Homo sapiens: one gene and its partner. The protein of the gene in region 1 purifies or fractionates together with the protein of each later gene. This does not show direct contact. Each region holds a gene or a part of one and is shown on either strand. Other genes may lie near its edges. The genes, in order: RAPH1 and ENAH.

Evidence for each region.
Region 2: the proteins of RAPH1 (region 1) and ENAH purify together in Homo sapiens (affinity purification with western blotting, with the first as the bait; one study listed by BioGRID). This does not show direct contact.

What each region holds. Positions count from the first base shown.
Region 1 is NC_000002.12:203,434,213-203,438,038, reverse strand, and holds part of RAPH1 (ras-associated and pleckstrin homology domains-containing protein 1), read left to right. Parts: 3' UTR 1-3,826. UniProt on the Homo sapiens protein: Mediator of localized membrane signals. Implicated in the regulation of lamellipodial dynamics. Negatively regulates cell adhesion.
Region 2 is NC_000001.11:225,513,438-225,517,263, forward strand, and holds part of ENAH (protein enabled homolog), read right to left. Parts: coding exon 3,759-3,826; intron 1,464-3,758; coding exon 1,159-1,463; intron 1-1,158. UniProt on the Homo sapiens protein: Ena/VASP proteins are actin-associated proteins involved in a range of processes dependent on cytoskeleton remodeling and cell polarity such as axon guidance and lamellipodial and filopodial dynamics in migrating cells.

The DNA of each region.
Region 1 (3,826 bases):
ACTATACTTCTATATGCTTTTTTCTGTGAATTTTCCTTGGTACATGAGAGAAATAAGTACTCTCATCAACTTATGATAAATTGGACTATTAGGAATAAAACAATCTCAGAGCAGCTCCTAAACAAGAGAATAAAAATGGGCCATCCCAGCACTTATAAGGGGAGCACATCTTGTAATGAAAGTCTGTGCCTATTGTTAATGATTACCAATGCAAACTGCAGAAATCAGTTGACATTGTCCCACAAGGAAAAAGTGATGCCAGTAAAGTGGGGGAAGAGATGGTAAATAATTCTAGAATGAGCAAAAGTGCTTAATTAGTACAGTATACTCAAGGTCTTGCATAACCCACACTCCACGAAAACCGCATCGTAAACAGAGAGTGAACAGCACCTCTCCATTGCTACATCTCCAGAATATTGTTCGGTTATGTTCATGTGGTTATGGAGCAATAAGAATATATACCATTAATTTTTAGGTCTTTCAAATTGTTCACCAAGTTTTGTGTTTGATATTTATGAAGTGATCTTTAACACATCTGCATTGTTAATTTAAGCATGCACAGAAATTTGGGTAATGTTTGAGTAGATTGCCAAGCGCTACTGTGATTCATGAATGAATTTCTCATAGTCTTCTGCCTGCAGTTTTATAGTTTGAGGGGCACCCATATTTGTGGGTTAGAGTTAGTAAGAATATGAATCCAGTTATCAAAGTATTCATCCCTGAGGTTTTGAGTTTTATTGTGGTGGTGATTTTCTCATGAGAAGGTAGACAACACTTCAGTTTTTCTTGAGGGGGAAAAAATGTACCCGCTAACCTTTTTTCACCCATGATTTGAGCCCTAAAACAACAGCCTTTATGTTTTCAGTGCAGGATTTCTTGGAATTTCTTGCTTGTATCAATCCTGATGATAGCCATCCTGAACAGATGCTTCTGGTCTGTTTTCCTGGAATAGCAGACATCCTTTTGAACACTAATGATGCCAGGAAGAGAGTAAGGCTAGAGGAGGAGACTCATTTTAACCCCAGTCCAGTGGCTTGTCCGACAACAGGCCATTTCCCTTTACATTCCTCCACAGACAGAAATGGCTATTAAAAATGTTTTAACCTCATGTATGAACTGAATTTAAAAAACCACTAAAGTGATACTTTATACTTCTGTTTTACTCCCTAGTGGGTTTTCTTTAATTTGGATTTTTGTTGGGATGTAGCTTTTCCTAGACTGTATTTCTGTAGCTCTTTTTCTCTGGTGTATTCATGGAAAGCATCTACTGCCGCACGACACTAGTACTGTGCCTTCTTTCACTGCCCTCTGCTCTGCAGCTCTCACCCAGCTTGGCTGCTTCAAGTCTGTGCAGTTGACTTGGCTGTACTGAAAAGTGAACAGCATGGATTAACTCATCCTGCTGCTGAGGGCAGTGCAAACAGGTGCTTATTAGAGGTAGTGACTTGCTTAATTAGTGACACTCCTAATTTCTACTATGGATAATTTCAAAGTAGAATCACTCTATGCTTAGAGTTTTGGCACCAATGCTGTAGGGCAGCAGAATCTATTCTCAGTAAAATAACTTATGGTTTATTAGATATTCTGTATTGGATTTTACCAGCTTGACTTTTACTGCTCAGATGCTTTCTTTCCCCCCCTTAGACGCTGTAATTCTCTTGGGAAGAGTAACTATTCTTAAGGTTTTTACAGATACCCACCTTAGTTGTAAATTGGATAGTTTATATTTCTGGGACTTTTTAAATGAAAATGTGGAATGTTAAGTTACAAAAGACTTTTCATCAGAAAATTTCAAACAAAGTAAACATGGCGTTTTATAGTCCTCTAAAATCTAGGTGCTCCCACCCACCAAAGGCATATCCTGCAAAGGGCTGTGAACTATCTTGGTGAACTGTCTTGGGTCCCCTTTCCATGTATGTTTTCTTGTCACTGAAAACAAACAACGCTGAGTTTATCAAGAAAATTTAAATTGGGGGATCATAATAATTCCAACCAAGTGACAACTCTGACATCAAGGTTATTAGGAGCTGTACATCCAATTCAAGTTTTATTTGCTGCTATTCTGGGAGAATAAACTTGTATATGGAGAATAAACTAATAAACTTGTATCGAGGAAATCCATAAAGTTATAAATTAGCCTGAAAAATATTTCAGGTAATGGTGTGGATTGGCCTGCTTTGACTCTCAGCCACCAACAGAAATCTTTGTCACCTTTGTTCCTCAGCTAAAAGTAATTTTGTTATAAACACAAAGTGACTTTAAACAGGTAAAAAACCCATTCCTATTTTTGTACATTACCAAAAGTTTTTCATATACCTACAGAGCTAACTAATTACAACTGATTTAATCCACTCAAGTTTAGACCAGTTAAACCCATAGGATCCTGTATGGTTATCAATGTGATGCCTTGCTTTTCATAAAATAGGTATAATTGGGTCATACACTTGACGAGAGGGTGACTGTTTCTAGGGGAAGAAAACCCTTTAGATTGCAGGTAACTTTCACTTTTTTTTTTTTAATATACACTTTACATTTGTATAAATTATGCAGGGTACTCCTAACCCTGTAGAAATGTATGACCTCTCACAAAGTTGAGATTTGATCCAAAGAGAAATGCAAGTATAAAAGAATTAGATACTTATTATCTTTTAAGGTTTTTTTTTTTTTTTGGTAGAGATGGGGGTCTCACTGTGTTGCCCAGGCTGGTCTCAAACTCCTGGCCACAAGTGATCTTCCTGCCTCAGCCTCCCAAAATGCTGAGATTACAGGCATGAGCCACTGTACCCAGCCTTTCCTTATAAAATTCAAAGAGAAAATTTCTACACCTTTATCCCTCAAATAAAACAAGTGCTCAGTTCTTACCGTGCCCTTGCAAGGTCTATATGTAAAAGAAATCTGAAATTTAGCTGTAGAATAAAACTTGATAAATAAAAAGAAAAAACATACATTTCTCCAGTTGGTTTGCTCTTTGCTTGTTGAAGTAATAAACCGTTTTAAAGAGAAAATACTTGCTGTAAACCCCCAGTGCCTTCAACTCTTTTGGCAGAATATTTTTAAAGAAATCCAGCAAGCAAACTTTGAGGTGCTAATGAAAGTAAAGGAAGGTGGTATTTCTAGTTTTGGCAGAAATGAAAAGTGTCTCACAAGAGACATCACTACCCACGTGGGGTCTGGCTGCTTTCTACCAAAGACATTTAGAGAAGTGAATTGAGTCAGGGTGATGGTGAACACTACATATTTTATAGATGGTTAAGTTGAGAATTAATTATGTTTATCATGGATGGCTACTAATACCAAGCTCATGATTGTTGCAGCCTCAACGTCTTAGGCAGTAAAACTTGTCTGCAGCACTAAAGGGGGAGAAACCCTTATATTTTGCAAACTGTCCATTCGTTAAATTTATTGTAACCTAATACCAAAAACTGCCGTTTTTCATATTATTTCCCCACCTCCTACTTTTTTTTTTTTTTTTGCTACTTGTAAAATAACCCCTTCTAGAAAATAAGCATTAACTGGAATGTTTCAAACAATTTTGCTTCATTTTACTATCAGCCACTAGTGAACTCTTACAGAGATGTACATTTAAGATAAAATTAGCTTGTGCTAAGTGTTTTAAAAACATTGTTTACTGTTAAAGGGGAATTGCACATTATATTTAACTGGGATTGCTCCCTCCCTCAGTTCTTTAAAAAACAAGAGTCAAGGCTCACACCAACTTGTAGGCTGTGGGAGCTTTGCCATAGGTAGATACAATGTAGAAGTATACTTTTTTAAAGCATGAAGAAGACAAGGAACTTCATTATAATGTACCAGGTAGAGGACATTA
Region 2 (3,826 bases), on another chromosome or scaffold:
CAAAGAGACATTATAACTAAATGCAATAAATGATCTTGCACTAGGAAAAAAACTGTCACTAAAGATGTCATTGGACTATAGATGAAATTTGAATAATACATTTGTAGATTACAGTATTCTATCATGTTAACTTTCCTGATTTTGATAATTATATTACTGGTTATGCAGGTAAATGTCCTTGTTCTTATAAAATTCACACTGAGGTACTTAGGAAAATAGAAGCTTGTGTCTCTGAGTTACTCTCAAATCATTCAAACAAAAGTGCATGTGTAGGCCGGGTGCGATGGCTCACACCTGTAATCCCGGCACTGTGGGAGGCTGAGGCGGGTGGATCACCTGAGGTCAGGATTTCAAGACCAGTCTGGTCAACATCGCGAAACCCTATCTCTACTAAAAATACAAAAATTAGCTAAGCATGGTGGTGGGTGCCTGTAATCCCAGCTACTCAGGAGGCTGAGGCAAAATCGCTTGAACCTGGGAGGTGGAGGTTGCAGTGAGCTGAGATCGCGCCATGGCACTCCAGTCTGGATAACAAGAGTGAAACTCCGTCTCAAGAGAAAAAACAAAAAAAGTGCATGTGTAAAGAAGGAAACATATCCAAAGAAGGAATAAAAAAGCAAATACTGGTAAAATGTTAATGGGTGAATGTAGGTGATGAATTTATAGAAATTATTTATACTATTCTTACAACTTCACTATAAAAATTTAAATTATGTCAATTTTTAATTTTTATTTATTTTATTTTTTGAGACAAAGTCTTACTCTGTCACCCAGGCTAGAGCGCAGTGGCATGATCTCGGCTCACTGCAACCTCCACCTCCCGGGTTCAAGCGATTCTTCTGCCTCAGCCTCCCGAGCAGCTGGGATTATAGGCATGTGTCACACATCTGGCTAAGTTTTGTATTTTTAGTGAGATAGGGTTTTAACATGTTGGCCAGCCTGGTCTCGAACTCCTGACCTCAGGTGATCCGCCCACCCCAGCCTCCCAAAGTGCAGGGATTATACAGGTATGAGCCATTGCGCCAGGGTAAATTATTTCAATTTTTTAAATCAATGAAGTTCATAACATTTCATAAAATTAGAATACAATAAATTCAACATTTTAGATATTTAGGAAGAATAAGACATATTAAAAAAATTTTTCAGAAAGGTATTTACCCGTGACACTTTCCTAAGTTTTGCTCCGGCAATTGCAGCTGCAAGTCCAGTTAAAGGGCGATTGTCTTCTGACATGGATGCCAAAAAGAATCCAGATGCAGGGAGGGGTGGGGCAGGAGGTGGTGGAGGAGGAGGGGGTACTTGATTAGGGAGAGGAGGGGGAGGAGGGGGCGGTGGAGGCCCGGTGGATGGGAGTGGAGGAGGTGGAGGGGGCCCTGGGGGAGGAGGGAGGGCTACTGAAGCCTGTGCAGGCCCTGGTGGGAGTGGTGGAGGAGGTGGAGGTGCAAGTGGTCCCAAGACAATGCCTGAGAGAGAGAAATGTTAAGTAAGACCATCAACAATAGAGCTGAGTGATATTATTTTATGTGGGAAGGTACGCAGAATGCCATGCTAAATTAAACTGACTCATGTATTTACTTAATGAGTCCAATTTATCATAGTTGTAAAAGTCTAGATCAGTTTTTGAAAGATACTGAAATGTAAGGTCCAAGTATATATAACTACTTACTTTAGGTTAGAGCTTTAGTAATAGAACTATGCAACAGATCATCTAATTAAGACTTTTTTTTTTCATGGGGATTTGGTAAATAAGCAAAATAAATACTTATAAAATTTGGAAGAGAGGTAAGCGTCCCTGAAAAAACAAACTAGTATATAGGATGGCAGTTAGTACTACTTGAAATATCAGACCCAAAATAATCCACATTAACCTTAAGTGTTGAGACAGTAAATTCAGTAACAGTGAACACATACATTTAATTGTTTACAGTCAAAGTGGCTGTATTAAAAACATGAAGGAGGAGTAAGTCCCAGCTTCAGCATTTTAAAAAATACTTCACATTTAAATTCAATGGATAGCCAAGGCTGAGAATCACTGAAGTAAAGGAATTTACTAGTACAAAGTAAAACCTCAAAATAACGCTCGGAAATAATTAAATACCATAGGATTTGAAGTAGAGTTGTTTTTATCCCACAAAATGGGGGGCAAGAAGAGAAATGTTCAAATGTTATAAAATCACAAAGGGAGTGAACAAGAATTTATTTAATAACAGAATCCTGAAACAGTAGGTGCTCTTTTAGTTAAGGTTTAAGAGGGGTGTTTTCAGAACGAATAAAATGCTATTTTGCACACTGGGTGGTAATTGCTAACTTTTTCAGCTTGAGCAGTTACACAAGCAGAAAACATCAATTGTTAAAAGAAGCATCTAGAAATAGTCTGTCCCTTCTGTAGGGGTTGTTAAGAGTTCTGAGGGTACAGCAGGTCACTTTGTCAGGCTGACTGTGCCCATTTTGTACAGTATAACTGTCATGGTGAAACCAAACTGAACGTCTTAGAATTCTGACTAACCTTTTAAGCAAATTTGTAAGTCAACAACAACAAAATATATACATATACAGCAATAACAAGCCTTGCAATGTTTAAGTACAAATTTGTTTTCAGTTTTCTTTCTGTAGTCCTCCTTAAATCATATTTTAAAAACTAGGGTTGCCAAGCATCTTCTTATTTACTTACAGAACCAGGTCCTTTTCTACTTACAAATAATCCACTTAGAGATTACATCCTGCCTTCCCTGTTACCATAACAATAAGGTAGGGACGGGGAGAATAACTACAGAGGATGCTATTCTCTCTTGATTACCCCTTCAAGCCACTACTTATTGTAATTTTGGACCTTGGAACCCTTTAGGGCATATATGAACCCTGCCATCCTCTCTACTCCTCCTGCAAAGTCATAATGCTCCAAGGGTTAGGGTGACACCTATCCTGGAAGTCCAACATGGGGCATCTAATATAGGAAAGGCAAGAAGGAAACAGGGCCCAAGATCAGAACTGTTCCAAAGGAAACTCTGGGATGACGTATCTAATGACTACAGTTGGGCACTAAATATATCTCTCTAAGTCTCCCAGAAAAATGAAGGAAAACAATTTAGATCATGTATTTATTGTGTGGTAGATCAACGTGTCAAGCAAAGTTTTCCCAGTGAAAGACATGTATTAGCTGGGTGCGGTGCTCACACTTGTAATCCTAGCAACTTTGGGAGGCCGAAGGGGCAGATCACATGAGGTCAGGAGTTCAAGACCAGCCTGGCCAACATGACAAAACCCTGTCTCTACTAAAAATACAAAAATTAGCCAGGCGTGGTGGCATGTGCCTGTAACTCCTGCTACTCAGCTGGCTAAGGCAGGAGAATTGCTGGAACCCGGGAGGTGGAGGTTGCAGTGAGCTGAGATCGTGCCACTCTACTCCAGCCTGGGCAACACAGCAAGACTCTGTCTCAAAAAAACAAAAAAAAAAAAGAAAAAAATAAAGAAATGTATTATGAGGGGCTCTTAAATACTAGAAAACATCTTTAACTGCGATACTATAAAAGATATCAAAACCTAGTTCAATAAGGAAATTCCTCCAAATGCAATTAATCCAACAGGAAAAACATTTTTCTACTTTAATTTTTTTAATTAAAAAAAAAAAAAGCATGGCATTATGGCATATAAATGTTCAAGGATCAAAACCATCCTACCCATCCATTCAGGCAATTAAAGTCACTGCTATATAACATTTTCAAGTGATTAGCTGTTAGTAGCAATAATGAAAGCCTTACCCTGTTGGGATGGAGTCTCGGCCGGCTGAGAGGCTGCCTGCAAGCCTGGCTCAGAAGCAGAAGAGTCT